Regions from separate parts of the Homo sapiens genome. Here all the other regions are linked to region 1. Evidence: fine-mapped expression QTL. A gene starts in region 1. Each other region holds a variant in brackets. All regions are shown on one strand. Distances are between the middles of the regions.

The links. PIP is the estimated chance that this variant, and not a neighbour inherited with it, causes the effect.
Region 2: its variant is fine-mapped to the expression of RETREG1 in whole blood (INTERVAL, PIP 0.96).
Region 3: its variant is fine-mapped to the expression of RETREG1 in whole blood (INTERVAL, PIP above 0.99).
Region 4: its variant is fine-mapped to the expression of RETREG1 in whole blood (TOPMed, PIP 0.97).

Annotation. Positions count from the first base shown.
Region 1 is chr5:16,613,184-16,621,291 of GRCh38, forward strand. RETREG1 (reticulophagy regulator 1) reads right to left here and starts at 3,814. Exons shown (of 9, transcript NM_001034850.3): 1 at 3,469-3,814. The coding sequence starts at 3,788. It overlaps RETREG1-AS1 (RETREG1 antisense RNA 1), which reads left to right and starts at 2,743. Exons shown (of 4, transcript NR_109946.1): 1 at 2,743-3,303. RefSeq lists a silencer at 3,568-4,057.
Region 2 is chr5:16,488,476-16,496,583 of GRCh38, forward strand. The region is part of intron 3 of RETREG1 (reticulophagy regulator 1); the gene reads right to left. Among named protein-coding and RNA genes, the nearest start is that of ZNF622, 27 kb to the left of the region's middle. The variant C/T (reference allele first, on the strand shown) is at 4,701.
Region 3 is chr5:16,593,021-16,601,128 of GRCh38, forward strand. All of the region lies in intron 1 of RETREG1 (reticulophagy regulator 1), which reads right to left. Among named protein-coding and RNA genes, the nearest start is that of RETREG1-AS1, 19 kb to the right of the region's middle. The variant T/C (reference allele first, on the strand shown) is at 3,137.
Region 4 is chr5:16,653,704-16,661,811 of GRCh38, forward strand. No RefSeq gene overlaps it. Among named protein-coding and RNA genes, the nearest start is that of RETREG1, 41 kb to the left of the region's middle. RefSeq lists a silencer at 2,857-3,151. The variant GTGGCTAAGCA/G (reference allele first, on the strand shown) is at 3,771.

The DNA.
Region 1 (8,108 bases):
CACCTAGCCAACCTTATCTCCCACTACATTTTCTACCAGCCCATGCTGCCATTGCATCTGTTTACTGTGTAGTGGTTGAAATATTAGGTACACCTTCAAGATGCTATTGTGTTCATTGTATTCCTCAGGGTTAGAATGCTCTTGATCATCTACTAGATCTCCCAAATCATTCTTATCCACTGAGGTTTAAGCATGATCTCCTTATTAAGAACCCCACAATCTCTTCCATCCACAATACCACGTTCCCCAAAACCATATCAAAATGAATTATCCTTTCCTGAATCTTCCACCACACTTAATTCATGCAACTTTTAGTTATACCCATTGGTTACGGCTGTGTCACAATTTTTGCCCAAAATCTTGCAGATAATGGGCAGGTAATAAATGTTGAAGCTTTTGAGTCAAATTCAGACTCCTAAAACCCACTGCTAATGCCAGGTGCTAAATCATTCAAAAATATATCTTTAAAAAGTTTACTTCCACAAAAATGAAATACATCAATTAAAGTGAAAACAACATCCCATTGCTTAAGACAGATTTGGTTGGGTTCCCCACAGTTTTAAAATTGATCTTTTTTTCTCATAGAAAATACAGTGCTTTAGAGTTCCCAAGACACAGAAGGTTAGAGTATCACATAATTTAAGATCATTTGAGAAGAAATACATTATTTAAAGAAAACGTAATGTCCTTGAAAATCATTTTAACCCCCAGAGCAACAAATAAAAGGGAAAAAAAAACAAAATTTTAATGACATTAATAAATGGGTCATAAATTCCAATGAATTATAATGCAAAAGCAACAAGTAATTCTGAACTTAAAGAACAGGACAGTCATTTTTGTCAAAGAAAATACATGCATGGAATGCAGATGCCACAAACAGGAGATGAAATAAAACAGATAAGGAGAAGGCTGTATCTAGGCTGAATGGCTGGCCAATGTTTTCCTCTCCGTCAGTATAAATAAAATGGATGGAAGAAAACACCCCTGGATACTATCAAATATGCCTTTCAATTATTTTATGCAAAAACATTATTTTCAATAGGTGTCATTAAAGAAAACATCATAGAAAAAAGTTTGCAACTCATGTTACAGAAATTAGGCTAAAGTCTTTAATATAAAAACAGCTCCTATAAATCAATAAGGAAAAGAACACTGGCCTACTTGAAAAAATAGACAAAGGTTATTTATAAACAAACAATGCTGATAAATGGTAAATGTGGTAGTTCTTAAACATAAGATAAAATGCTCAATCACAGAGAACTGCAAAATAAAATCATTTTGGGATAGTCTTTTTCACCTATCAGATTTGCAGGATCAAAAAGTTTCATAAAATATTCTTCGCAAGAGTGTGGCAAAGCAGGCAGTCATACACATTGCTGGTGGGAGTATAAATTGTTAGAACCCTAAGGAGCTGCATGCAATATGGTGACAGCCATCAAAATTACAAGTGCACATGCCCTCTGACCCAGCAATTCCACTTCTGGGAAGTTCTCTAAAATACTTGCATATATGCAAAATGATGCATGTACAGGGTCATTAGCTATAATGCTGAAATAGCAAAAGCTTGGAAACATTACTGCCTCAGTAGGAGACAGGTTAAGTAATTTGAGACATCCTTACAATAGAATTCTGAAGCAGCTGAAAAAGAACAAGGAAGCAATCACCAAGAAATACTAGGAAAAGGAAGAGCTCATATGTTATTCCACAATTTGCATAGAATATGGTGTATTTGCTGAAATGTGCACTATCTGGAAAGAGACACAGGAAACTAGCAACATTGCTGGCCTCCGTGAGGAAACTGGGCGGCCAGGGACTGGGATGAGAAAGAGATTTTCAAAATGCTTACCCTTTTGTACCTTTAAACTTTTGCACTGTGAGACTGTATTAGTTTTTTAAAGAAATAAAATTTAAAATTAAGAAATAAAATGTTAAGGCCGGGCGCAGTAGCTCACGCTTGTAATCCCAGCACTTTGGGAGGCCGAGGCGGACGGATCACGAGGTCAGGAGATCGAGACCATCCTGGCTAACACGGTGAAACCCCGTCTCTACTAAAAAAAATACAAAAAACTGGCCAGGCGTGGTGGCGGGCGCCTGTAGTCCCAGCTACTCGGGAGGCTGAGGCAGGAGAATGGCGTGAACCCGGGAGGCAGAGCTTGCAGCGAGCCGAGATCGCGCCACTGCACTCCAGCCTGGGCGACAGAGTGAGACTCCATCTCAAAAAAAAAAAAAAAAGAAAGAAAGAAAGAAAAGAAAAAGAAATAAAATGTTAAAAACATCGTAAACATTAGTGAGACACAGCCCTAAGACTATTAGACTATTGCCCAATCTAGCATAAGACAATATGTCCTTCTTATTTGAGTGCTCGCATTCACTCCATAATAAGATAGATTTGGAATAAACTCTATTCCAAACACAGATACCTAAGAGATCCAAAGTTAATTCACTTTCAGGGACCTCCGACAAGATACAGCTAGTTTTAAGAGAAAACACCAGGACTAGCAGAGATCTGAGGAAAATATTCATCTTGCTCAAGTTAACCTAGAAAATGACAGGCTGTCTATTTTGTGCAATTTATTTATTTCTCAACTTTAAGGTTCAGAAATCTCTGTCCTGTAACAAGGTATCTGTTACCGGAGTCTGATTATTCTGCACTGTGTAGGTCATGTTTGTTATGAGGACACTTAGCAAACAAAGAAGGTTTTTCTCCGCCCTCAATAGCGTGGTAACGGATGACAGGACACCACTTTCAACGAAGGAGACAGACATTTCCCTGGCCTTTCTGAAGAGCGCTTTTTGGAGAGACAAACCTGTTGCTCAGGGGCTGAGCATTCCCGTGTGTTCTCCCTGTACTTCACCTAAAAATATGCCTGTTTTCCACACTGTGCACACCCGGGGGTGGGTGCTGGGCATACTCCACCTGCTTGTTTGCCTCCCGTTTTCTCATCAGGGAGTAAACACAGTAAACCTAACGCTCCAGGGGAAGGAAAAAACAAATCATTCAGGGCCCATCTCAGGTGACTGATGAATGCGGCACCGTTTTGAACGGGTACCTAATCTGGTCCAGATATGCCTGCTGGGGCTGCAAGAACCAAGACACGTTCAAGCACGTTTGCTCCGGCAAGCTTGGGCGAGCAGGTCAAGACCTCAGAGTTTTAGAAAGCAGGGGCGAAGTTTTCAAGCACGATGGGAACACCTGTAGGTGCAGGTGCCTGAGGGTCGGCCGACCACCTCGCATCTGAGGCTGGATCCGCACACGGAGAACGACAACTGCTCACAGGGACGTGCGTCCGGAGGAAAGTTGCGGTGAGTGTCTACCTGTTCGAGACAGGTGGCCGAGAAAGTGGGGCAGGGCTGACAATTCTTCCTCCGCAGTGTCCCGCGGGCTCCCCCTGCACTGGGTCCCCGGGGCCCCGGGCGCCCCAAGGTCACCTGCCCTCCTCAGCGCCCCCACCTTGCCCAAGCTCTCACCAGAACAGCAGGTTGGCAGCGACGAAGCCGAGCAGGCTCCGCAGCGGCCTCTTCCAGCTCAGCAGCTCGTCGGCGCGGCAGCCCAGCCACAGCACCGGCTCCCCGAGCAGCCAGGTTACCGCGGCCGCCGCCCGGCCCGCGGCCTCCTCCACCTGCAACCCCGCGCCCTCCGCCGCCCCAGCTTCCTGCGCTTCCTCCTCCTGCTGCTGCCGCTCTGCGGGGGATGCCTGGGGCGGTGGCGGCGACGGCGGCGCCTGCTCCTCGGCGGCAGGAGCCGGGCATCCCTCCTCGGCGTGCTCCGGAGGCGCCGGGCTCGCCATCTTCAGCTGTGCTTCCAGACAGGGACGGGGCCGGGCGCGCGCGCGGGCGCGCCTGGGTGTGGGTGCCGCCGAGGGCGGGGCGGCGGTGGCGGCAGGTCCCGGAGCGGGGCGCGCACCGCGGGGCACAGGCGGCTGGGGGCCTTGTGACGCCACAGGCCACGGAGGGGGAGCCGCCCGGGAAAGTGGGTGCGGCCGAGTTCGCGCAGGGGCGGGGCCGGGCGCCGGGAGCTGGGCGGTGTCCCCGGGGGGCTCTGGGTTCCTGGAGGGCCTCTCCGGGACTCGAGGAAAACGACCTTTTCCCTTGCAGCGGCGGGAGAGGGCGAAGTGGAGGACTGCTGCTCGGTTCCGTATCCAAAAGAGACCCAAGGCTCCAGGCAAAATAGATTGGACATTTTCACTTTCTCAAGCCAGGGCCACCGGTCGCCCAACCAGCAGCCACTGAGGGTGGTATCGGGGCGCCCCTTCCCCTGGCAGCGTATTTCAGCCCCCAGAGACATCCCCCACCTCGGCCATCCCCAGCGCCTTTGCAGGGACAGCAGCACAACCATAGCAGAGGTCCTGGGCATCCTGGAAATAACGTGCTGGTATAAATGTTGGATTGAGAAAGGAAGAAAAAACATTTGGGGTCAATTTGGGGCCCTCTCGTTTGACACGGGAGGAAACACAAGGCCGCAGCGTTGGGGGAAGCTGCTTCCTTTCTCTCTCTTCTTTCTCTCTGTCTCAGGTGCTTCCTTTCTCTTCTCTGTCTCTCTCTCTCTCTCTGCCTCTCCCTCTCTCTCCCCCGTCTCTCCCCCTATCTTCCCCTCTCTCCTCCTATCTCCCCCTCTCTCCCCCTCCTTGTGGCTAGGTGATCTGGCTCAGAAGTGCACGTTGGCCCGCGCGTGCGGGGAGCTGAGAAGCAAGAGATTGGAACTTTGCACGTGTCAAGCAAGGTTTGGCCTGCTTTGAAGACAGTAATTTCAGAGCCACTCCGGTCTCTGCGTCACAAGCGGGCATCAGGGCAGTGGTGGGGCGGCAGGGGATCCTGAGACCTCCCATGCCCTCTCTTTGGCCCCGGTGCTTCTGGGTGAGTGTGGGGAGAGAGGAAAATAGTTGTTTATGCTTTTCACCATTTGCATTTTTAAATTTTTGTCTTCTTTAATCTTCCTGGTCTTACTTTTACTCTAGAATGACAGGTCCTTCCCCCCCATACTAAGGGTTCTGTCTGCGGATGCATCAGGGCATCTCATATCCCTTTACTGGCAACCAGCCTGCCTGCACAGGATGGAAGGGAGGGCAATTAAATTCCCTGCGTCAAGGGAGTCTCTAGGGGAATGTTCTGTAACGCTCCTCTGGGTGGCCATTGTAAACCTCTGTGTATACACACGTGGAATCCATTGATCTGTACATTCACTGCAGGTGTCTGCACTTTACTGCTTGTATGTTGTACTTCAAAGGAGTTATATTCCCAGAGCCCAGGCAAAGGCTTACTGAGCACCTACCGAGTACACAAAGCATTGCTAAGCTCTGTGGATGCAGCTTCCACCCACAGGAAGCTCCCAGTCTGATGAGGGCCCAGTTACAATTGTGATATCTGCCACAGCGAAGAAGCCTTCGCTAAGTGCTAAGAGATTCCTTACTTAAACTGTGCATCCAAAATTAGGGGAGGAGTGGAGGGATCAGGTTTCAAGAGCGTTTTGTAATAAATGGCCTCTGCCCTAAATTGTAGGGCCCCCATTAGTGTGGGGATTGGGGACAGGGGCAATAACTGCTGTTGGGAATTCAACAGGAGAGGAGGCATGGGGTTGCAGGTGGAGACGCACAGTTCCTTAAGTAACTCACCAAAGGGAATAGTGGACATTGAATGGTCTCTAGTAACAGGAGGCTTGGTTTTTAACTAAAGGTGATACAGAACATCTGGCATTTCCGACTCCCCTTCTTAGGAGTATCCTGACAACCCGATGGAAAGTGGCCTGGGTGTCAAGGAAAAAGCAACGTGGAAACAATTCAGGTTTCTTCCATATAAGAGAGACAATCTTTTCCCAGGTGTGGGTCCTCCCTCTTGGCAGTAGCGGAGAAGTTTTTGAAAGATAAATGATGCTTTTATTGTGTCATTTGGCCTTTGTTTGGCGCTTGATACAGCCCAGGGTTTGCTATTCTAAAATCTGTCACTAGACAGATGTGTGCTGCAGCCAGTGTGGAGAACATGGGGCAGGAGAGAGGAAGAACCAGGTGTCCCCGTTCCCCAGACCAGTGCTGATGTGCTACCAGAAATGGGTTTGCAAGATTAATCACCTTCCTCCTGCTTCCCTTGAATTCTAATTATTGTTGTCAGGATCTGTTGAAGTAGTAAAAGCTGCTGGCAACCAAGACACATAAAAGCTAAGCTCCAGTTGCTGTGTGTGGTTTCCAACACTTATTTATTATCTCTGTTTAATAATAAACCTCCTTCCCCACAGCTATGTGTTGTAAAGTCTATCCTTTCTCTCTCTCTCAAAATTACTATGGAGAAAATGCTATGCAACCTGTTTTGCATAAAAGGCTGGGCTAATTAACCTTTCCTTTTCACCTCCGACCTCTAATACTTACAAACTGTATGACAGAAGTAGACACTGGCATAGACATACAAATGGTGCTGCTGGGTGGGATTTTGTTGTTGTTTTGTTGTTTGTCTAATGATCTTTGTGATGCTTGAGTAATTTATTCAGGGCTAAGATTACAGAAACATAATGCTAACAATGGTTGAAATCAACCTTGTCCCCTAGTTTTAAGAACACGCCACATTCTTGAACTCCTGCAAGTAATCTTACTAAGATTCTCTTCTGAAATTTTATTGCTATATATTAGGAACAGAGTGATTAACACTAGTGAGCTAGATGATTTGACAATATATATCTGAGAAAAGGAAACTGGAAACGTGTCTGAGAAAAAAAAAAGTTCTAGCTACTGAATGAGAGTTTAGAAAATGAGACAGCTCCAGTAAAGAAAGTCCAAATGCACATAAGAACTCTCTAACAGAGGCCACTCACTTTTCTCATCTAAGAGTATGTGGAAAGCTTGTAATAGGAGAGGAAAAATTATGAATAATTAATTCCCACTATAGGAAGTCTCCTAGGGCAAAATCAAGCTAAGACTTAGAATGATGGGGAAAAGCCCCCTAGTCATAATATTTTGGGGAAATTTCTTTTCTCTACAATATTATATATTAGAATCTTACAGTAGCTCCATGATTCCTTAAACAAAAGGAGGCTCGTTGATATGGTTTGGCTCTGTGTCCCCACCCACATCTCACCTTGAATTGTAATAATCCCCACGTGTCAAGGGTGGGACCAGGTGTAGGTAATTGAATCATGGGTGCGGTTTCCCCCATGCTGTTCTCGTGATATTGAGTGCTTGCAAGATCTGATGGCTTTATAAGGGGGCTTCTCCCTTCACTCAGCACTCATTCTCTCTCCTGCCACCCTGTGAAGAGATGCCTTCCGCCGTGATTGTAAGTTTCCTGAGACCTTCCCAGCCATGCGGAACTGTGAGTCAATTAAACCTCTTTTCTTTATAAATTACCCACTCTCAAGTGTTTCCTCATAGCAGCATGAGAATGAACTAATACACTTGTGTATATGTTGTATCGTTTATTAGCCTGCAGATAGAATTTTTTTTGTGTTGGTACTTTTATTAAACTAATTCTACCCTCCTCCCCTTGCTATATCCTCTGCTCCTTATTCCTAAGTTTCCATAATTTTCTTCTCACTAAGAAAACCTGGATAGTTCACTCTAAGCACAGATAAATAAGAGTATCATACAGCATCAGCAGGCACAGAGCAATTGGAAAGGAAGGAAGATCATCTCCCGGGTCTCTAACCTGGCTTCCAAGGCCCAGCCCAGTGCCTGGCTCACAGAAGGAATTCACTATTTCTACTTATGTTGAATGTCTGTTGTGCATATACAGACGGAAATATTCAAACTAGCATAGTCTGTGTTTGACAAGCATTCCATAAGGGATGTGCTTACCAGAAAGATGGTGGCCAAGATGTTGGCCACCCAGATATCAGTTGGGGTATTGCTCCCTAATACCTAAAAGAAGTTTTTTTTTTAAGGCTTCAAAATGGTTAACTGAAAAGAACGGAGGTCACATGACAACATGAGTATATCCCCCAAGGAAGCCTACCTGTCTATCCCCAGGTACACACACAAACACACGCACACCTATGATCCACAGGGGTGACTGCAGGACATTAACTTCCAACCCCTTCCCAACAGGAATCTGAACCAGCAGACAAAGCACTGTCGGGTCCTTGCTGCAACCTCTTCCCCCCACCCCCTTTGATGGTCCTGGTTCTGCAT
Region 2 (8,108 bases), 120 kb before region 1:
CAGGACCCAGTGCCAGAGAGTAGAGCACAGTACAGAGGGAGATAAAGGGAGAGGTCTGATGTGGGGGATTCCTGGAGTCTTCAGCTGAGGCTTTGCTGGCACAGGCGTGTGAGGAGCCCGGAGGCCAGGAAAGAGCCATCAGAAAGGACTAGAAGGAACAGTGTCTTTGGCCAAGAATGACACCTAGTCCCACCAACTAGACCGAAAAACTTCAAAATTCACAGACATGGGTAGAATACTCAGAAGGGTCTTGCCTCAGTAGCAGAGAATAATCAGTCCTAAACTAAATGCGGCTCTGGTCCTAACAAGTCTTAAAAGCAGACCTTAGGCCGGGCGTGGTGGCTCACGCCTATAATCCCAGCACTTTGGGAGGCCGAGGTGGGCAGATCATGAGATCAGGAGATCGAGACCATCTTGCCCAACACGGTGAAACCCCATCGCTACTAAAAGTACAAAAATTAGCCAGGCCTGGTGGCATGCGCCTGTAGTCCCAGCTACTCAGGAGGCTGAGGCAGGAGAATCACTTGAACCCAGGAGGCAGGGGCTGCAATGAGCCGAGATAGCGCCACTGCACTCCAGCCTGGGCAACAGAGCGAGATTCTGTCTCAAAAAAAAAAAAAAAAAAAAAAAAAAAAAAAAAGCAGACCTTAAAAGGATCAAACTGATTTTAAGTGATTCAACCGCCAACTGTAGGATACAAAGTGGTGAGTTTTGTTATGAACAAAATAACTCAGTCAAACTGGGATGTGAAGCAGTTCACTTATTTTACTTTTATGTGTATCTTTTAAATTATCATGTACCTTTGTTCCCTTAAAAAATATAGTTATCAAAACAATGTTTAAATATTATAAGATTTGTCTTTGTGTAGTTTAATGCCTGCATAATGGAATTTCTAATGCACTTGGCTGGCAGTTTCAGAATGCAGCACACAGTATTCTCCATTAGGGGGTTCTGTAAGACTAAGAAATAGGACACTCTTGTGCTCTTTAAAAATAGATTGTAATTCTGTAAGACAGAACATGTGCTAGCAGCCTGTTTCATCCCTTTCACCAATAGTATCTTTGAGCACTAGAAAAAATAATGCTGCAACAAAATGAATCTTGGCATAGAAGAAATACTATCTCATTATCATTTAACTTCTGTTCGTTTTAATAAATATGCAGTGAATGTACATTAACTGTCACCATTCCTGGCTCTGGGACTGAGGGTTGACTAAGGCACAGCCTGTAACCAATAAGTTAAAGTGTACATGTGACCCAAGAATGATGCAAAGCCTACACACACTGGTGATACATGAAACTCACCTTTAAAAAATGGCATTTAATTGTATCTAGGGCTATTGGAGATACATGAATTTGAAAACTATGTTGGGGATTGGATATATGAGGAGAGCTTGTTAAATGTAAGATCTTTTCACTATTGTACATTTTACAGGACAATGTTTTAGCATATACTAATGAACTTAAAAGTGTTTTTACAACTCAGTTATTTTTGAAAGCAAAAAATTATATTTTTAATATATCAAAGCTAAAATATTTTCACATATTTCTTGAGCTTTAGATTTGAGGAGATAATTACCAACCAGAGATAGGAAACCTGGAGTAGATGGAAAAAGAGAGGGAGGGAGAAAGTATATGGGAGGCAGGGAGAGAATATGAATGAATCCTGATAGTCAGGTTTGAGTTCTTGGGTCCTGTTGGGCCCAAAAGGCAAGGTGCAAAGCAAATCCACCCATGGACATCCCCCATAATTGGAGCCAGTTCCCTTGTGCCTTAAGCTGGTTTCTGGCATTTGTAAAACAAAATAAAGTGTCCCATGTTTCAGTGGGAGCAATGGAAAATTGTTTAAAATATCTTAAATTATGAATAAACGTAACTATTAAAAAAGAGTTATAAGATTACACAGATTACTATGACAGTTTTATTTAGGTGGCAATTTGTAGTAGAAAGGAAAGATGCAATTAGGTTATATAATAAATCAAGCAAAGGCAGTTTGTTAACAATTCAAATAAAGGGGGTTACAGGCACCATAAAAAAGAATAGCTAACACTCACCAGGGGTCAGGTAGTGAACAGCATCTTATAAACTTACTATCTTATAAACTTACTACTTACTTCAATCCTTACAACCAACCTGTGAGTGAACTACTGTTTATTATTCCTGTTCAACAGATTGAGAAAGTTGAGGCCCAGATACATTAGCTATCTTGTTCAAGGTCACAGAATGAATCCACAATGGAATAGGGAAGTAATGCATAGAACTGGGAATGCTCCTAATGTGGGGCGAGATACAGAAAAAACACTCTCCGGATTGGAACATGGGGACCATTGCAAAGATGAGTAGGGAAGCACATTAGGGCAGTGCCACAGGCAGGATTATGGATCCCTAAATGCCAAGCTACACAAATAGAAATCAAAATAGTTAAAAAGCGGCTTTGGTTCCCAGGTGAAACTCCTTGGTCCTAAGGCATCTAGATTCTTATTTTCTCTCTGAACCCCTCCAGCTGTTCCTAAATTAGTACCCACAAAGTGATTCCATAATCATGAACCCAACTTCACAAACTTCAATTACAACACGTGCCCATAATAACCATGACCATGGCAACTATCTGCTAAGCTCTCCCTGTGTGCCAGGCACTATGTTAAGCACTCTGCCCGCACTGTCCCAATGTCCTCCACATGATCCCCCTAGGACCCCATCCCATTACGATACCCTGCAAGGCAGGGTTATCTCCATTTTACCCAAGAGAAAACTGAGGCTGAAAAGGGCTTGAAACACAGCAGATCTCCTGGTTACCGACCACGACCGTCGCATCTGGTAACGTTCTTTCAGGGCAACTATGAATTGCAATTAATTTATGACATTTGTAACACTGACTCCCTATGAGACTTTAAATCCCATGAAGGAATTCTTGGACAGTGCTCTGTCTTCAGTAGCTAACAGAGCTTGACATCTATGAGGCACATAAAAATACTGAATGAATATAAACAGTAAACATCCAAAGAAGAAAATATCAAAAATAATTAACAGTGGTTATTTGGTGGCACCATGTTTTTAATTCACTTATCCGAATGTTTCTATACATTACGTGTTGGTAATAATTAGCATGCATTCCCTCATATGTATAAAAATATACAAAATAATAGACAAAAAGTCCTATTAAAAATCTAGAAAACAACTGTCATCTATAGGGAAGAGTTTTGTTTTGTTCTTTCTTGCAAATGGGCAGTTAAAATGCCTTCAAAATTAGCTAATTAGGAAATACGGGCCAGGCACAGTGGCTCACACCTGTAATCCCAGCACTTTGGGAGACAAAGGCGGGAGTATCCCTTGATCCCCAGAGTTCATGACCAGCCTAGACAACATGGCAAGACCCTGTCTCTACGAAAGAAAGGAAAGAAAGGAAGAAAGAAAGAAAGATGCTTCATATATTCCAAGACTTTCTGGAACTGAAAATCGGTATTTCATATGAGATTTCTGCGGGCAAAACTTGAGCCTTAATGTGTGACTTGGGGATCCCTGGATCCATGAGTATCTCCTGCGGGCACTGTTCCCACATGGCCCACCAGCATTTGTGATACCAGTAGAGAACAGAACTGGGCCCTGACGAATATCCAACCTTCACATGAAATATCAGAGAAAAATGACTCCCTTTTTGGTTTTGCTTTTCAAGTTTTTGTAGGGCAACTGCACCCCGCTGGAGAACATTTTCAGACAGTGTTGTCCTCTCTCTCTCTCTCTCTCTCTCTCTCTCTCACACACACACACACACACACACCATTCTTGTTAGGTTTTAACTTTTTCACATCCTTATGAATTTATAGTGCAATAATCATTTCCAAAGATGTTTTGATTTCTGTTATAATACCTCCAGAAAGTATACATTATTTCACACTACTCATTATTTTATTTTCAATTTATAAGAAATGGAAGTTGAAGCCAAACAATATTTTTCAGAAAGTTTGCTAAGTCACCATTCCATATTGACAAACTTAAAAAAAAAAAAAAAGGATTTGTTATAACTCGTCACCTGGCAACCATGACAAACAGCTGCTGCAACCATCACACCTATAAATATGCTTTGGCTTGGAGACCTTTCATTCTCAGCTAGTGACTAAGGGTCTCATGCTCTCTACTGGTAGTGGACATCTGTTGATGCTAATTCCTGTCGAATTTTTCTTAGAAAGGTCAGTCAGTATCTGGTTACAGATTTTAACATTTCTTAGTGTAATGTGTTAGAATTTTTTTTAATCCTGTGGATACTTATTATGTTCCTCTGTGTGTAGGTGCTTGCATATGACTGTATGTAGGCAGAGAAACAAAATAAAAACAGATATATTTCTCTGCATGAGCACTCACTGAATTAGAACCATGACAACGCAAATAAGATTTGTCAACTAGAGGATTAAAAAGAGTAAACACAAGATTAAGAAATTACATCGCACTCAACTTGAAGCGTTCACTTTCTCAGGCCAATTAGCCACGTGAGCGACTCCTCCCAAGGCCAGGGACCAGAAGGCGCCAGTGAGTGCTGGCTTTTTCTGCCTGGAGAAGCTTTCTGCCCGGAGAGCCCCATCTTCCTCAGAGCAACTTAGTGTTCTATTTGGGGCTCTCCCTTTTTTTATATCAAGTTTAAAACGACTCAGAGATCAGCTACTTACTTTTGCGATTGACCCTTTCCACCTCCTATCTCAAACTGAG[C/T]ACTGCTACTTCTCCAGGTGATCATCAATTATCCAATCCACCTAGATCATTTGGGAGGCTGACACTCAACTACCCATCATAGTATTTATTACAGTTTCAAGTTTCTATGAACAAGATGCCAAGTATAAGTCATTTTTCAGCGTTTTTAATTTTAACATTTTAATAACTAGACTTTCATAAGCCCAGGGCATGAGTAATGCAAATTCCATTACTAGCATAGGACAAGCACCTACTTGAGACCTGCAGGAGATTCAACACCCTTTCATTTGTGAATGCCAAGATTTGCTTCAATCACTGTCCCTGAGGGCAGAAAATATTTCTACTTTATCCCTGAAGGACAGATAATATCAGATAGTCAAGAAACACTCCTCAAGGAAAACAAAACTGTTATTGTGAAGCAGGCTGGCTCATTTAGATATAAGTCTTTTCTTGCATTCCACTGAAGATCCACAATTTCTGATGAATTTCAACCCAGGGTTTACTGTAGTTGGAGTCAAAAGTAAATGTCCCTTCCCTGCATTGCAACATTTGGCCTACTTATATGAAACCTGTGAGGATACTAAAAAATATGTTTCCTACAGCACAAAAAAAAAAGTCATTAACAATATTGTTCCTAATTTTGCTTTTTAGAGATGGTACCCACCACACTGGTCCTGAGCACCAGGTATATACAACTCAAACACTGAATTCTCAAGTTTCTCCAAAGTGCTTTTATTATGAAGGCCAATTCAAATTATTTTTGTTTGTAGAATCAGCCTTTGTAATAAAAAGCAATAACCTGGAAGATGGCAAACTTGGAGTGACTATCGCACATTAAGATATTCAGTCAAGATGCTAGGCTGTTTAATTAGGTCATATTCCCAACTTAGTCCTTTAAAGAGTGTATCTCTCATTTATGTTCACATAAATAATCAGAGGCTTTTAAAGGAATACACTCTTACTAAGAGAATCAGACCCTTATCAGTCACAGAAAAAAATGACAATGCTTGCTAAACTTGCCCTCAGTCTCCCTCAATAGCAGATTTTGAGAATAAGCTATTATGTAAATAGTACATGTATTAATGGTAAATTAATAAATATAATATTCAACAACAGTATGCAGGGAAGATGGGTATGGGTATGAACCTGGGATTATAGATGACACAAAAAAAATGGTAGAAAGTTAATGACATGGTTTGAATCTGTGTCCCCACCAAATCTCATGTCAAATTGTAGTCCCAAGTGTTGGAGGTGGGGCCTGATGGGAGGTGGTTGAATCGGGGGCAGACTCTCATGAATGGTTTAGCACCATCCCCTTGGTGCTGTGCTCATGATGGTGAGTGAGTTCTCAAGAGATATGGTTGTTTAAAGAACGTGTGGCACCGCCCCCCTGCTCTCTCTTACTCCTGCTCTGGCCATGTAAGATGTGCCTTGCTTCTTCTTTGCCTTCTGCCATGATTGGCAGCTTCCTTAGGCCTCCCCGGAAGCAGAAGCCACTTTGCTTCCTGTAGAGCCTGCAGAACCATGAGCCAATTAAAACTCTTTTCCTTATAGATTACCCAGTCTCTGGTATTTCTTTATAGCAGTGCAAGAACAGACTAATAGAGAAAATTGGTACTGAAGAGTGGGGGCATTGCTGTAAAGATAAATAAAAATGTGGAAGCAGCTTTGAGACTGGGTAATAGGCAGAAGTTGGAAGAGTTTGGAGAGCTCAAAAGAAGACAGATGGATGAAGGAAAATTTGGAACATCCTAGAGACTTGAATGGTGGTGACCAAAATGCTGGTAGTAATATGGAAAATGAAGACTAGGCTGATGAGGTCTCAGAAGGAAATGAGTATCTTATTGGGAACTGGAGCAAAGGTCACTTTTACTATGTCTTAAGCAAGGCAACTGGCTGCATTGTGCCCCTGCCCTGTGAAACTCTGAACTTAAAGAGTGATGATTTAGGTATCTGGTGGAAGAAATTTCTAAGCAGCAAGGTGTTCAAGATGTAGCCTGGCTGCTTCTAAAAACCTATGCTTATATGTGTGAGCAAAGAAATGATGTGAAACTTGAACTTACATTTAAAAGGAAAACAGACCATAAAAGTTTGAAAAATTTGCAGCCTGGCCATGTGGTAGAAAAGAAAAGCCCATTTTTAGGGGAGGAATTCAAGCAGGTTGCAGATATTTGCATAAGTAAAAAGGAGCCAAGTGCAAATAGCCAAGTCAATGAAAAGCCCCATTGTCAAAGGCATTTCAGAGACCATCTAGCAACCCCTCCCATCACAGGCCCAGAGGCCTAGGATGACATAATGGTTTTTGTGAGCCAGGCCCAGGCCACCTCTTCCCTGAACAGCCTTGGGACACTGCTCCCTATGTCCCAGTCACTCCAGCTCCAGCTATGGCTCAAAGAGGCCAAGGTACAGCTCGGGCTGCTGCTTCAGAGGGTGCAAGCCATAAGCCTTGGTGGCTTCCATGTGGTGTTAACCCCACCCCTACTAAAAATACAAAAAATTGGCCAGGCATGGTGGCAGGTGCCTGTAGTCCCAGCTACTCGGGAGGCTGAGGCAGGAGAATGGCATGAACCCAGGAGGCAGAGCTTGCAGTGAGCCGAGATTGCACCACTGCACTCCAGCCTGGGCGACAGAGCGAGACTCTGTCTCAAAAAAAAAAAATAGATGAGTATGAATATTCTTAGACTCAGGGTATAAGTTGAGTGCTGACTGGGGACTAACAAACCTAGCAGTCCACCCCTGTGGTATTCGATTCAATCCAATAAATCTTCACTTAGGTGCGGGGACTGAGGGGGTTATCAAATTGCCAATTGATTTAGGGCTTCAAATAAATTGATGTATTAGGCATGATTTCTAGTTTTATTTATTTAAAAAAGGAGCAAGGATTTAATGACAGAAGTCAAACCCAAGTAAAGGATCATTCTAAATTTTTCTGCTCATCCCCCCAAACCTTTTTAGTTTTGTCCACACTTAAAAAAAAAAGTAGTATTAGCAACTTACTCTTACTCTCTCCAATGCATTTGACTTAATTTTCATAAACAGTTATATGTATTACAATATAGGTTTTCCTATCATATCAAATGTCAAAGCAACAGTGGTCTAAACAAGAGAGCAGTTCATTTCTCCCTTATGTCACAGCAGAGCATAGAAGTCCCAGGCTGATATGGGACATCCATAATGTTGGAGACCCAGGCCCTTTCCATCTCATTGCTCAGACACTGTCAAATCACACTGCCACCCCATGGACCTTGCCCCATCCACATTGCCACCAGCAGGAAGGGGTAAAAAGAAGCTGAGATAATTCCCCTTTCTCTTTAAAGTCATGGCCTGCAAGTTGCCTGTGCAACTTCCATTCACCTCCCACTGGCTGGAACATAGAAACATGGCCATGCCTACCTGCAAGAGAGCCTAGGAAACATAGTTCAATTGCTG
Region 3 (8,108 bases), 20 kb before region 1:
ACTTGAACTTAAAAGTTTTTCAAAAAAAAAGAAAAGGAAAATGTGGATTCTTTGACAAAAGGCGTTTGCTTCCTAAAGCTCGGCAAAGGCACAACAGTGAACCCCTGACTCACCATCCCATGCCCAGTGGTCACACTCAGCAAGGAAAACTCCACCCAGTCTCCTTAGCAGCCTGCTGTTAAATTAGGTCACCCCACTGCTCCCCCGGAGTGATGTGTTTTCCTTTCAGAGCACGCCTTCTGACTCCCACTTGTATGCTGGTTTGCTTGGCCATTTGTTTCCCATCTGTCTGTCCTTCCCTACCCCATACTACAAGCTCTGTGAGAGAAGGGACCATCTCTCCTGTTCACCACTGTCACCCAAGCACTAGGTCTCTGCATGCCAATCACAGGCACTCAATAAATACTTTTTTGTTTGCTGTTGCTCATTCAGTATTTGTTGTACAAATGATTCAATTAATGTAATTAATTAACCATGCATGTAATCAATGTAATCATTAATCATAAATTCCTTAAAGCACATTATCATAATAATGACAGCTTGCCAAATTGGGGGAAAAAAAAAACTATGGGGAACATTAAAATGTCTATACCATTTTTATTAAAGACCCTTTGGGAAGCATCAGATAACATGAATGGCCCTTGGATATCTGCTTAGACAAATCTTATTTCTTCTCTTTCAGAAGACCTGGCCTCTGATAACCAAGAGAAGTAAATCTAGCTCTCCTAATTTGCCCCATACTAAAGTCATGTTGCAATGGTGTGGCTGAGGTCAAAGAGAATGGTGCTCTGCTGACTCATGTGTCCCTATCACCAGAGGAGCTGCAGCAGATGCACCTCCGTCAAATCTAAGCAGCCATGTTTACTGTGAAAGCCACACCAAATCCGAATACAACGAATGTCTGGCCTTCTTTCTAGACACCTGGTAGTTCCAACAAAAAGCCAAAGATCATCACTGACATTCTGGGGATGGTAGCCCATGATTGGTTCTTTGGCCAACACCCACTGTTTTTCAATGTCACAGGCCCACAGCAAAATGTATTAGATCACAGTCTCACAATCTTAAGATACAACTTGTCTGTACCAGGCAAAACCTACACACAGCAGAGATTTGATGGGCACCATCGGAAACAAAAGCTGGCATGTACACAGAATTAAACTTCTCAGTCATACAGTGCATCGATGTACAAGGGTGCTGAACCTTTTGGCTGTATTCAGTGATACGATTAAGAATCAAAATTTCTCCTGATGCCCAACTTTCATTTTGATAAATGAAAGCTACAAGTTCTAAGTGTATTAGAATAGATTTTTAAATGTGACTGAATGAAAATGAGCCAAACGTGAAATGTCATTGTTAAATATCTTTAAATATGTAGACAACTTTTATAAGAAAAAAAGTTAAACGCTTAACATAGCATTTTTCAGTTGGGCGTGGTGGCTCACACCTATAATCCGTGCACTTTGAGAGGCTGAGGCGGGTGGATCACCTGAACTCAGGAGATCAAGACCAGCCTCACCAACATGGCAAAACCCCATCTCTACTAAAAATACAAAAATTAGCTGGGCGTGGTGGCGCATGTCTGTAGTCCCAGATACTCGGGAGGCTGAGGCAGGAAAATCGCTTGAATCCAGGAGGCGGAGACTGCAGTAAGCCAAGATTGCACCACTGCACTCCAGCCTGGGCAACAGAGCAAGACTCCAAAAAAAACAAAAAACAAAACACAACCACACAAAGCATTTTTCATAGACTACCATCACAAACTGGCTAAAAGTCTCTCACTAAAGGTTTCTGATGTGACAGATGACATAATGATGCAAGGTGTTGTTTTCAATTTATCCAGAAGGTATTTGGAAGTTAAATTCAGAAGGTATGCCAGGAAGACATACATTCATTTCTAAAACAATGAAGAAAGAGATGAAGTAAGGTTTCCAGACTGCAGTGAATATCCCAAGATATACCCATCCAGGTTACAGAAACTCAGTTGCAAGAGAGTTTCATATAATATCCTTCCTTCAGCTTATGAGCCATTTTCTCCATGTGCAAAGATGGTATTTGGATCTATGCAACTCATAAGTAACTGAGCCCCAGACCAGAAACCATGAAGCCATTTCCTGACTCATGGTGAGAGTCCCGTCAGGATGGCGGTCATGCGCAGTCTTGTACACGAGGCCCCCTAAACCTTGCTGTTCTAATAGACCCCTTTAATAGTCCTTGTTTTTATATTTTGTTTTTATTTCACCAGAAAGATCTTTTTTTTAAGCACCGAGTGCATGTATGTTTTGTTTGTAGGCACCCTGTATTATGTTTAATAGCTACAGAAGAGCTTAATTAAAAGAGGTCAACAGCTCTTTCAGAGAGAATTTATTAACCAAAAAAGTCACTGAGTTGTGTTATGATTACTAATATAACTACCATATTAAAGTGACCATGTCCATTTTAACAGGTCTTGGTGTTGTTTTAGCAGACACAAGTAATAACTTGTTAGTTACGAGCATACAACAAAATGTTTCCTTGGAATAGTAAATGCATTTTCAACTGCCAAAAATTCTTCCTATGAAAAGTTTTCTGGAAGGAGTTACTCTCGTCATTAAGAAGGCTACACTACCATTAGCTGAATGTTAAACACCTGTTTCAAGTAGATGTGATCAAATACAAGCTATTACTACTAAGAGCAAGAGGAAGCCCTTGACTGCCTCCTTATATCAAAGTGACTTTTAGCAAACCCGGGCTCATTTGTCAGGGGGGCAAGAAAGGATGGTGAAGTCTGAGACAACGGCCTGAATCTCACAGCTAAGAGCTTTTTAGGGTCCTGGAAGATTACGAGGAGATCTGTCAATACTCCAGACCCTCAAAAGACCCCAAAGACATGGTTGGGCCAATACAGTAAAGTTCCCACACTGACCTGCAAAATATAATTAGTGATTCTCACACTAGGGAACATTATTATTTTGCCTTCCTAAGTTTCATCATGTTCACTGTCTCAACACTTAGTGCATGTAGTTTAAAAAAGAGGTCAGGAGACTCTGATATGGGTCATAATGTCACCAGCTGAGGGACCTTGGGACTTAGTTTCTTCATCTGTAACACGAGGTGGTTAAACTGGAGCAAAGATTTCCTCTCCTTTCATTTCATCATA[T/C]GGATGCCTTCTTTTGAAAGGTTTTAACTGCCAATGAAACAAATAATATGGTTTACTAGGTCAGAGCTGGTGCAACTTGATCATAGAAATAATTATCTTCCATGATGCGTTTGAAATACTGAAAACAGACTAGTGCCTTCAAAGAACTGGGCAGCTCTGGGATATGATTTCAATATGATTCTTTTGCTGAAATCTGCCACTCCAGAGGCACATTTCTTTCCCTGCTACGCAGACTGGCAAAACACATGCAAAAGCTGCCAGAGTGGCTTTTTGGAAGCTGACAAGGGGAAACTGGCACCCATGTAGCATTAAGCATTACGCTCGAAGCCAAACCTAAAATGTAAGCAGTAGTGACGCTCTCAACTCAATGCATCCTGGTCAATCACAGACTAGAATATTTGTTTTGAAAGTTGTCCTGCTGAGACCAAAGTATGAATTCTCTTTTCATTCAGTTAAGCACAGCCTATTCTAGGATCCGGCAGTTCCCACAAAGCCAGGCCAATTACCTGGCCTGACACGCACCCTCCAGGGCAAAACTCAGCAAAGCCCACAACATCCAGCCAGGCAACCTCACTGCAACTCCAGGGAATGCCACTCACGCTGTTTTCTGTGTGAGTGCCTGGAGACACGTGACAAAGAAGCCCTGTGTCACACCTAAAGAATGGTCCAACTAGAGAATGGACCACAAAAATCTTATGCAGCTTCTATACGCAAGCAGATGTTGGGCCTTGGAAGTACAAAAGGCAAAAAGAAATGCTTTAAGCTTGCCCTGAAGATCTAAAGCATGAGAAACAATAGGACAGGAGTCTGGCTGATTCTCTGCTTACCTATGTACTAGAAGTCATCAGTCAATAGTTAGACTACTGACATTTGTCAGACAACAGAAAAATGCATCTACACCAAAGGACGTGGAAAGAATCCTGAAGAAGTAGGCTGGCAAATGCATATAATGGGCAAAATAACCCAGCAAGTAGAGGATAAACTACAATTAGGCCACCCAGGTGTAAAACAGTTGCAACCACACAAGTGTGGCTGTGTGCCCCTGGCAAGTCACCTGACTTCTCTGTGCCTCAGTGTCATTGTGAATATTAGTAACGACACCTACCTCCTCCAACAGTTGTTATGTATATGGAGTAAGAGACACTACAGGTGAACGGCCTAAAATATCTGACACGGGATAAGTGCTCCACACCCATTAGTTCTGAATTGTAACATTATCCTTATTCACTGATTTGTCACTGTACCTTCATCATTAAATCCAAAAGCATCATAAATCTTAACCCCTAACCTTGGTGCCACAAAAAGCACATTGCCTTTCTCTGCTGGACTCTGAGTACCCTTGGGGAGTCCAGGAGTCTCTCTCAGGATGGCATTCTGCACTGGGCAAGGCCCCACACTCAGCCTGAAGTCAGCCACACCTCCAGAACCCTCCCAGGGAGAAGGGCACTTCCAACCTGCACTGCCCTTGGTCCTCCCCCACCCACAAGAGTGACCCCACCAGTGGCTTCCTATAGAAAACAGACTTCCCCTTGCTGCCCCACTCTCAGCCTCCAACATGTCTCCCACATGCCCCTCCTCACTGCCCCTCAAGTGCTTTCTACAAAGAACCAATCACATCAGTGCCAGGGGTTGTTTGTAATGGCCCGTCAGTTCTCCAGGCCTGAAAGAGGTCCCAGTCCTGGAACTAGTACCTAAGCCCCTGAAGATCTGGACCTGCTTCCTTTCCAGCCTCACCTCCTGTGACCGCTGGCACGACTTCCTTGCCCCAGGGGTAAGGAACTACACTGGAGGGAACTGGGCAGCCCCTGCTTCTGACTGCACTCAGGATGAAACCCAAACCCCTCCACTCCAGTTCCAGGCTCTTCACCGTGCCCTACCTCCTGCCCTGCCTCACCCCCTCCCCTTCCATCTCCCCACCTCCCGACCACACGGAACTCTGTGCACATTTTTGGCAGTCCACACTCCTCCCTCTGGACTTTCACACATGCTGCTCCCTTGGGCTTGGAACAAATCCTTCCCCTGCACACCCCAGCAACCTGGCCAACGCCTACTGACTCTCTACGTCCAGCTAAAATGTCACTTCTTCTAGGTCTTTCCAGACTACAACCACCATGGCTGCCCTTCCTACATACCGCTAGCATGGCACTTAAAAGAATGTGCTGGAAAGGATATCTGACCTGAGTTTCTTCCCCACATTGTGAGTTCCATGAGGGAAGAAGACACCGTGTCCCCAGTGTCTAGCACAGTGATTCTACCTACCATGTTCTCAGTGAGTATTTGCTAATGAAACAAACCAGGGCCGTGTTACTCACTGTCACCCTCGGAGCCTTTGTGACTCCTTCAGCCTGGAAGGCTCTGCTTACGTTGATTCACCCAAACCACTTCTACTTAGCATTCACAACTCACAAAAGTGTGACCTCCCTGCAGTCACCAGATTTGGAGGACTTCTGTTCCTTCCCATAGTAGCAGCAGCCTGGATACCTGTTACTCATATTTGTCATACCAAACTAGTTGCTGCTTTCCATGTCATCTCTCCCAAGAGATTTTAAACACTAAGAACCACCTTTAACCATCCTTTATAACCATCCTTTGTAAGTGATGGACCCCACCAAGATCTTGGAGGACCACTACAGTTAAAGTTCAATGTCAGATCAAGGTAGGCTGAAGACACCTACGATTTAGAGTTTGATACTGGGGCATTTCATTCACAAATCATGCTCTATTTGTTTAAATGTTACAGGCTGGGTACAGTGGCTCATGCTCACCATCCTAGCACTTTGGGAAGCTGAGGTGGGAGGATCACTTGAGAGGTGGGAGGATCACTATGTTACCCAGGCTGGCTCAATCAGGAGTTGAGTGAGACCCCAGAGTGCGTCCCCATCTCTACAAAAAATTTTAAAAATTAGCTGAGTGTGGTGGCACAGACCTGTAGTCCCAGCTACTCAGGAGGCTGATGGGCGAGGGCTGCTTGAGCCCGGAAGTGGAGGTTGCAGTGAGCCAAGATCACACCACTGCACTCCGGCCTGGGCAACAGAGCAGCACCCTGTCTCAATAAAAAGGAAAAAATAAGTAAATTTTTTACAAATAAAAAGAAATGCTGTAATGAAATGCCATTCTCATGCTTTAGTGAGACTAGCTAGAACCAAATATACTCCATTCACTAATATTCTAATCAGTAAACTTTTCAAAATCTAGACACATATTACTACTCAGTAATAAATTATCATCACGCCAATTTTTAATTTAAAATCTATAAAGTGCTGCACTTGGATTGGATAGGAATTATCACAACCACACAGTATTTTGGAAAAGAAATGGGAAAAGAGAAATTCTTCTTCTCAAGGGAGGTGAGCAGAGAACTTGGATACCTTGCCCAAAAGTATGGGAATCATGAGGAAGTGGATGAAAAAGCAGAGGGTGTCACTAAAGTTTTACCCATTCAATTACTGAGCACCTACCATATACCACGGTGCTGGGATACATGCCTGAAGCAACAGACTGCTCTCTGCTCTGCTGGAAGCAGCATTCAGGTAGGGAGGCCAGCCCTGTGGTCAGGCATGGCACACTGAACATGCATATCTTTCTCCTCTTCCTCCCCAAACCACGCCAGAATCAAAAGTAAAAATACTGACAAAGATATGCATGCATGAGGCTAAAAGCAAGCAGGAAAGGAGACAACAGTGGGGATATCAACAAACATCTGGAAGATGGAAAGCAAGCTCCAGGGTGATAACTGAGCGAGCAGCAGAAAGAGCGCTGGGAATTGCAAGGGTGCAAGGGTAAGGCCCCCAAAAGCACGTCCCCCTGAGCTGCAGGTCCCAGGAAAGCGTGGGGGTGGAAGGAACTGGGAGAAGGCAGGGGCGAGGACAGGTGTGAAGATGTCACCCAGGCTGGAGTGCAGTGGCGTGACCTCGGCTCACTGCAACCTCCACCTCCCATGTTCAAGCGATTCTCCTGCCTCAGCCTCCTGAGCAGCTGGGATTACAGGTGCAGACCACCAAGCCCGGCTAATTTTTGTGTTTTTAGTAGAGACAGGGTTTCGCCATGTTGGCCAGGCTGGTCCTGAACTCCTGACCTCAGGTGATCCACCCACCTCAGCCTCCCAAAGTGCTGGGATTACAGGCGTTAGCCACTGTGCCCAGCCTACAAATCTGTATGATGAACAGTTAGAACTTCAGATCTTACTACCCACCCAGCAAGGTCAGGAGAGAGGACCTCTCCTCCACCCCGACAGAAGTAGGAGGTTGTTCTCTGAAAAAATTAAAGTGGAAGGGCTTCAGACCCCGGGGGTAACAGGACAGAAGAGAGCAGGGCAGAGGAACCACGCTGAGAACAGGGAGCTGATGCCAGGCACATTCTGATGGGGACCCCCACGTGTTCATCATCTCCCTGGCACAGCTCCCAGAACACTCGGAGTCAGGCTTCCCCTCCCTGCCCCGCCCCCACAGGAGAGGTCAGCATGCTGATGACCCACAGTGAACGCTGTGAAGTGGCCACTCCTCAGCCCAGCACACTGCGCTCAGCCTTGGAGCCCTTTACTGTGAAACAGGAAGAGGAAATCTGAGGACCCCTTAGATATTTCAGGAAAGCCTTCAACACCTAACAGACACAAAATACACAGAAATAAGGAACTCAGAACACACACAAGAAAACCTCGAATAAACTATCTTCTCCTTTTTATTAAAGAAGAGAAAAATCTAAGAATCAAAACAAACGCATCTAAAAGGAAAAAAAATCAAAAATGAGGAAAATGTCTTGGAACAAAAAATGAGACCAGAAATTTTAAATCAGTAGAATGCAAAAGATACAAGAAGCTTTCTGAAAGCAGAACAGAAGACAGAGATGAAAATAGAAAAACTGAGAAAATCAGGAGCAATCCAAGAAGTCTGACGTTTGACCAGTAAGATCTCCAGAAAAAGAAGAAAACAGGCTGGGTGTGGTGGCTCACATCTGTAATCTCAGTGACTCAGGA
Region 4 (8,108 bases), 41 kb after region 1:
TGATTTGCATATGTTGAACCAGCCTTGCATCCCAGGGATGAAGCCCACTTGATCGTGGTGGATAAGCTTTTCGATGTGCTGCTGTATTTGGTTTGCCAGTATTTTATTGAGGATTTTTGCATCGATGTTCATCAGGGATATTGGTCTAAAATTCTCTTTTGGTTGTGTCTCTGCCAGGCTTTGGTATCGGATGATGCTGGCCTCATAAAATGAGTTAGGGAGGATTCCCACTTTTTCTATTGATTGGAATAGTTTCAGAAGGAATGGTACCAGCTCCTCCTTGTACCTCTGGTAGAATTCGGCTGTGAATCCATCTGGTCCTGGACTTTTTTTGGTTGGTAAGCTATTAATTATTGCTTCAATTTCAGAGCCTGTTATTGGTCTATTCAGAGATTCAACTTCTTCCTGGTTTAGTCTTGGGAGAGTGTATGTGTCAAGGAATTTATCCATTTCTTCTAGATTTTCTACTTTATTTGCGTAGAGGTGTTTATAGTATTCTCTGATGGTAGTTTGTATTTCTGTGGAATCGGTGGTGATATCCCCTTTATCATTTTTTATTGTGTCTATTTGATTCTTCTCTCTTTTCTTATTAGTCTTGCTAGTGGTCTATCAATTTTGTTGATCTTTTCAAAAAACCAGCTCCTGGATTCATTGATTTTTTTTTTTTTTTTGAAGGGTTTTTTGTGTCTCTATTTCCTTCAGTTCTTCTCTGATCTTAGTTATTTCTTGCCTTCTGCTAGCTTTTGAATGTGTTTGCTCTTGCTTCTCTAGTTCTTTTAATTGTGATGTTAGGGTGTCCATTTTAGATCTTTCCTGCTTTCTCTTGTGGACATTTAGTGCTATAAATTTCCCTCTACACACTGCTTTGAATGTGTCTCATAGATTCTGGTATGTTGTATCTTTGTTCTTGTTGGTTTCAAAGAACATCTTTATTTCTGCCTTCATTTCTTTATGTACCCAGTGGTCATTCAGGAGCAGGTTGTTCAGTTTCCATGTAGTTGAGCGGTTTTGAGTGAGTTTTAAAATCCAACGTGATCAGCCAATAAGCTAGGGGCTTCATCATATCAGCTGTGAATAATAACAGTTGTATATCTTTTCCATTTCTTTCTTTTCTTCCTCTTTCTGGCTTGCTGAAGTGGCTGGAACCTCCTCAGTGAGCATAGCATGTCTCTATTCCGCTTGGCATCAGACGAGGCAGCTTGAAGGCTGGAGACTGGAATCATGTTAAGAGCCTTGTGGTTGGTACCTGGAAGACTTAAATAGATGGGGGTTGGCACAGCTGGGAATCCTTGGGTATCTTTCTCTTCACCATGGTGGCTTTAGGGCTCCAAAAGCACATGTCCCAAGGGAGAAGGAGACACAAGCAAAAGTTATGGTGTCACCGTCTATGACTTGGCTTTGTGAGTCACACAGTATTTTTCCTGTCACCTTCTATTTGTCAGAAGTGAGTAAACTAGGGCTGCCCCATATTCAAGGAGGGGACAATTAGACTCCACCTTTTCGTGGGAGGAGTATCACAGAATTTGTGGATGTATTTTAAAAGCAGCACAATTGATGTTCTAGCCCAAATTATTTACATGTTTCCTTCATGCAAAATACACTTGCTTCATCCCAGGACTTGCAAAGTTGTATCTATTAAGAGATCAGGTTTAGGTTTGAGGCCCAGGGTCTTGTCATCTAAATCATGTTCCCACATGGGTGAGGCTCCTTGCGGGTAGTTCCTCGAGTGTAGATCATGGAAGATCATTTTCTTGATCTGAAGATCTATGTACTAAGGAGACAAGTCTTCTGTCCTGCTGATGCCACATGCAGTGGTGGGTCTGGCATAAGATAACTGCTATAGACACTCTAACTCACACAGTGGGGAGAAAGAAGCACACAGAACTCCTTGGTCCATGGCACTTCTGAAATCCAGCTGGACACACATGGCTAGTGCCTTGATGAAGGCTCAGTTCCAGCAGCTGGGAAACTGGGAATCATCCTCCATGGTTTCTTGGATATATCCTCTGAGTCAACTTTTCTTTTTCTATAAAATGTAGCCATGTTTGCAGCAGATTAGATTTTTCAGTCTGTGTCCTGCCTGTCAAAATTTTGTTCCATATAATCCTCTTACAACATTTTGGGTTTACTATGTAACCTACTGGAATTCACTCCATTAAACAAAAGCCTCATCTATGTATCTCAAGATAAGTCTTTCTACACTGGGATCCCTGAAAGGTGACTCTGGAATAATTCATTTAAGATTCTTGGCCAGGCATGGTGGCTCATGCCTGTAATCCCAGCACTTTGGGAGACTGAGGCAGGTGGATCACCTGAGGTCAGGAGTTCAAGACCAGCCTGGCCAACATAGTGAAACCCCGTCTCTACTAAAAATAAAAAAATTAGCCAGTCATGGTGGCATGCATCTGTGGTCCCAACTACTCAGGAGGCTGAGGTGGGAGAATCGCTTGAACCTGGGAGGCGGAGGTTGTGGGGAGCCCAGATTGTGCCACTACACTCCAGCCTGGGCAACACAGCAAGACTCTGCCTTAAAAAAAAAAAAAAGATTCTTAGAAGCCCAAGTTGTGTGGTGGAAAGGATCTACCCTGATGATCTCTAGAGAACTTTGATTTTAATTCTAAGAACGTCACATAGAGTTTTACAATTGCACCTTTGGGTTCATCTTTAGACTATGTTGTCCTGACAGTGCCCTGAATTTGATATCTTCCAGAAACCATTTCTTAATTTTAGCAATCACTATGTCAATTGGAGAAACTAAGAATGAAAATCAGTTTTATTTTCAACTCAGAAAGTCCTGGCTCCTTTATATTTAACAGTTCTTTCTTTAGCTTGCTTTAGCTTGTCTATTTTTTTATAGCAAAAAGAAACTGGGTGGTACTTTCAACACACTCTCTGGAAATCTCCTTAGCTGGAACATTTAGCTCATTAGGTGCTTTTTCTATTTCCCACATTGCCACAGGCAACGGTGTTACTAAACTTCCTGCTGTTGCATCACGAAGGTTTTCTTTTTCCAGCTTCCAATAATATTTTCCTCACTTTCCTGTAAGTCCTCACCAGCAATCCTCCAGAGGGTCATCAAGCCTCTGCTAATGATTTCTTTGAAGTCCTTGATGCTTCACTAACATGTTTCTTAAGTCCAGCTTCTTCCCACTGCTCAGTCCCAAAGCCACATGCTTTAGGTTTGGTTATGGCAGCACCTCATGTTTAGAGTGCCAAAATATGTCCAGTTCTCTACAGTTGTGAAACTAACCACCACTGAACTTAGTGATCATTTTAAACAAGTTATTTTGCTCATGAAACTGCAATTTGGACAGATCTTAGCAGGGAGAACTTAGCTCTGCTCCCCTCAGCTTGAGCTGGGGTAATTCAAAGCTAAGGGCTGGAATAATCTAGAGACTCACTGACTTATCTTATGGCTGAGGTTGGGAAGACAAACAGCTGAGGTATGGTACCTCTGGGGTGTGTCAAGCTTTCCTCTCTGTGTGGCCTCCTTAACATAGTCTATTTGGCATGGCATCTTTTGGCTAGGGAGACTTCTTACATGTCAGAGAAACAGTAAGTAAAGATGTACCACTTTTTATGACCTAGGCTTGTAAGTCATGCAGTATCATTTCTTCCACATTCTCCTCATTAGAAGTGAATCACTATGGCTGACCCATATTCATAAGAATTAGACTTCACCTTTTTATGGGAGAGGTAACAAGAAGTTGCAGTATGTTTTAAAATGGCCACACACACTAAGCTGCACATGAGGCTGGGAAATGTATTCT[GTGGCTAAGCA/G]TGCATTGCAAGCCAAAACGTAGGGGAATTCTGTTACTAAAAGGTAAAAGGAGAGAAAGGCCAGATTACTGGGTGTTAGTTAGCAGTCTCTGTCACAGGCAGCTTTGTATAGAAATTAAAACCTGAACCAAGTTATCATGGATGAAGAGAATGTGAATAGGGAGAAAGGTCATTTCAAGCAAGAGAAGAATATGAGCAGAAACTTGGAGAAGGTAATAAGATTGTGGGCATGTGTGTGTTTATGCTGAAAGTACATGTCTAATTAAAGGGAGCTGGTGATCAGATGGTAAATTATGCCACATAGAATGGGTGTGGTCCTATCAGGAGGCCAGTGAAAAATAGAGAAACTGCTTGGATTTGGCATAGTTTTGTGATGAAACGGCAATGTGTTAGGCCATTTTTCCATTGCCAAATAAATACCTGAGACTGGGTAATTTATAGAGAAAGAAGTTTACTTGGCTCATGGTTCTGCATGCTCTTCAAGCCTGGCACCAGCATCTGCTTGGCTTCTGGAGGGCTCAAGGAGCTTTTACTCACGGTGGAAGGTGGCATGGGAGCAGGCACAGTACATGGCAGAGTGGGAGCAAGGGCAGTCGGGAGGTGCCACACTTTTAGAAACAATCAGATCTCATGAGAACAAACTTGCTATCGTGGCACCAAGCCATGAGGGATCCTCCCCCAGGATCCAAATACCTCTCACCAGGCCCTACCTCCAACCCTGGGGATTACATTTCAACATGGGGGATTTGGAAAGGGACAGATAACCAAAGTATATCAAGTGAGATTTGGAGACGGATGACCCTGGACCTGAATTCCCTGTCCATAATAGTCTTGTGATTTTCAGCAAGTGCTATAGATTACAAAAGTGGCCACAATTCTCCAACTTTTTGTTGAATGACTTTACAGCAACTTCCATAAAGTTATGGAGTCTATTTCCCTGCCTCCTGACAATGCTCTGGCATTATGTCTTGCTTTGACCAGTAGAATGTGGTGGAACGAACAATGTGCCAGTTTTGAATTTTAATCTCAAGAGGACTTGCCTGTTCCCATTCATTTTCTTGGGACCTTGCAAAATGCCCCATAAACTGGCCAAGGCTAGGTAACTGGAGGATGAGCGAACATGTGGAGTGGAGCTCAACTCTCTCATCCAAGGTCCCCAAAATGAGAAAGTTGGACAAGGTTAACTTTGTTCACCTCGCTATAGTTGAACTGAAGAGCCATGAGCGGGCCCAGCAGGGAGAGGCTGCCCAGGTGAGCCAGCTCAAACTGACAACACCTTGAATCATGAGCTAAAGAAGTGGATGTTGGGCTGGGTACGGTGGCTCACGCCTGTAATCCTAGCACTTTGGGAGGCCAAGGCGGGAGGATCACCTGAGGTCAGGAGTGCAGCCTGGCCAATGTGGTGAAACCCCATCTCTACTAAAAATACAAAGAATTAGCTGGGCATGGTGGCACATGCCTGTAATCCCAGCTACTTGGGAGGCTGAGGCAGGAGAATCACTTGAACCTGGGAGGTGAAGGCTGCAGTGAGTCGAGATGTCCCATTGCACTCCAGCCTAGGTGACAAGAGCAAAACTCTGTCTCCAAAAAAAAAAAAAAAAAAAGAAGTGGATGTTATTTTAGCTACTGAAATTGGGGTGATTTGTTACACAGCAAAGCTAACTGTTACAGCAAGTTAAATAAACTCTTTTCTAAATCTCAGTAGCTTCACTAAAATAGATATTAAAATAGATCATAAATAGTGCCTATCTCATGGCAAGGACAAAACCAGACACTTGGTGCCAAGCCTGAAACGTGTGCTGAGCAAATGTTAACTAATGCCATTGATTACATCAAAGAGAGATTATTAACAGAGTAACACAAAGGAAAGAGTGTAAGAAAGAATTACTTTAGAAATCCCCATTCTGCTCATTTTTGCCTCATGACTTTTCGCCATTCTTTGGTTCCACTGCCCTGGCATGTGCTCACTCTGCATACCACAAATCTGCATCTGGGGGCTAAATGTTCTCCCTTCAAAACTTATCTCTTTGAACACTTTCTTTCTGGACCCCTTCAACACAAACCCAGATGGTCCACATACTCTGTTAATTGTCTTATTGCCTTATATATTTATATATTTTACTAACAGCCTCTAAGCAACTTAATAAAGATGGTTGGTGTTGGTCTTTGGGGTTATCTTATCTCCAGTTAAGAGGCCTGTTAAATTTCCTGAATGCCAAGTCATTCAGTGAACTCACAGACAACTATTCCCCCAATAGATGGGATTTGTAGGAATCACTGGGTATTTTCCCCAGCATATCATGAGGGAATGATGAGAACTTGAATGTAACAACTGGTTCCCACCAAGCAAATGTCTGAATACTTTAGAGTCCGTAAATCCTGTTTATGTCTCAAACTGCTTATCAACTGTAACCCAGTTATTACTTGAAAGTAAAAATAGAAGTCCTTGGGAAAACTAAAGATGGAAACAGATGCTATACTACATTTTTAATTTTCCCACCTTAATTACACCCCCTACCAAAACAGGCTGGAGTGCTTAAGGCTTTGTAAGTTTCTTCTTTCTACTTCATTCAGAGGTTGTCTTCTGAACCAGCAAATATCATTTTTAAATTTAAACAAAAGACATCTCTTCTCCATTGTGTTTTGTCGGTGGTGTGCAGGACCTCTGGCTCCTACCGGCTTGCCAGAGGTGACTGTGAGCTGTGTGCATCTCATTCCAACTCCACTTCCAGTGGTGATACCCTGGAGCCTGAAATTGGCCATGGTAGGGTTATTTATTTACACCAGAAAAATCAGCAAATTCTGTGAAGCAGGGTTTTTGTTTTTGTTGTTTTTTTCCCCCAGAGAGCCAGTTGGTAAGCATTTACCAACATATGATGGCCAGATCGCCATGGGCTTAGAAAGTACAGCTTCTGTCACCAGGAAACATTCATCACCTTCGTCATTGCAGAATGCTCTAAGTTGTGAGACTGGTAAAATGGGAACTCAATGAAAGCATGACCAAGACAAATGCTGCTAAGCCACAGCCAGTCCGGCTGGAATATGAGTGAGGTAGAGAGAGGCTTGAGACAAGGCTGGAGGGGCACGCAGAGGCAGAAAACACAGGGCTCGGCCGGGTGCAGTGGCTCACGCCTGTAATCCCAACACTTTGGGAGGCCGAAGCGGGCAGATCACAAGGTCAGTTCGAGACTAGCCTGGCCAACATGGTGAAAACTCATCCCTACTAAAAATACAAAAATGAGCCAGGCATGGTGATGGGCGCCTGTAATCCAGCTACTCGGGAGGCTGAGGTAGGAGAATCACTTGAACCTGGGAGGCAGAGGTTGCAGTGAGCTGAGATTGCTGCACTCCTGAGCGACAGAATTGGACTCTGTCTGGCGGGGCGGGGAGTGGGGGGCGGGGGAAGAAAAACACAGGGCTGTAAAGGAATAAACATTTACGTTTCAGTGGTATAGAAAGTTATGGTTTCACATAGGAAATAAATATATTTGGGTTTATGTTTTCTAAAGATCTCTCTAGGTATCTGGTCTGTGGAGAATAGGATAGACACATGGTGGGAGGGCAAGGGTGGAAGACTAATGAGGACACTATTTTGGATCGGGACAAGGGAGCCACAGCATGGCTTCTGACCCCTGCCTTGCACCTGCCCCATGCCCATCTCCACACCCCACCTGCGCTTGTGCTCCCAGCGCTCTCCACCAGGAATCCCTTCCTCTCCCATCCCAAGTCCTGCCATATTGCAAGGCCAGCTCAAGGTCCACACCCCTCCACCTTGCATCCTCCCCCCCGACCCCCGTCATCCCAGTCACATCAGTCTACCTGCCTTGGCACCTGGAATACTACTTCCTGATTATCACAAGACTTGCTGTGCTACCTTTTGTGGTCATTTCACATTTTATGTGCATTTGTCTGATCTCCATAAGTTGCTTAAAGTTTATTATGGAGATCAGTGGTATGATCTATGGCTAAATTGAGCGCCCAGAACATTCCAAGCAGGCACGATGCTAGATATCTTGGGGCACATAGAGGGAAGATAGAATCTGGTCCCACAGAAGCTTTCATTCATCTGTGGATTTATCAAATACAAAGATAGGTGATGCTAAGCCACTTTGCACTGATAAGGAAATGCAGGGAGGGAGGAGATTCATGCAAAACAGTGGGTAAGAAACACTTAAAGCAACAATCTTAAAACTGGGGACTGTATTCCTTGCATCACACATGGAATCAAAATTCTAACTGTAGCTTTGCTTCTAAAGGAAACATACTTCCATAATTACCTGCAACAGAAGTCAGCACATTCTTTCTATGAAGAACCAGAGAGTAAATAT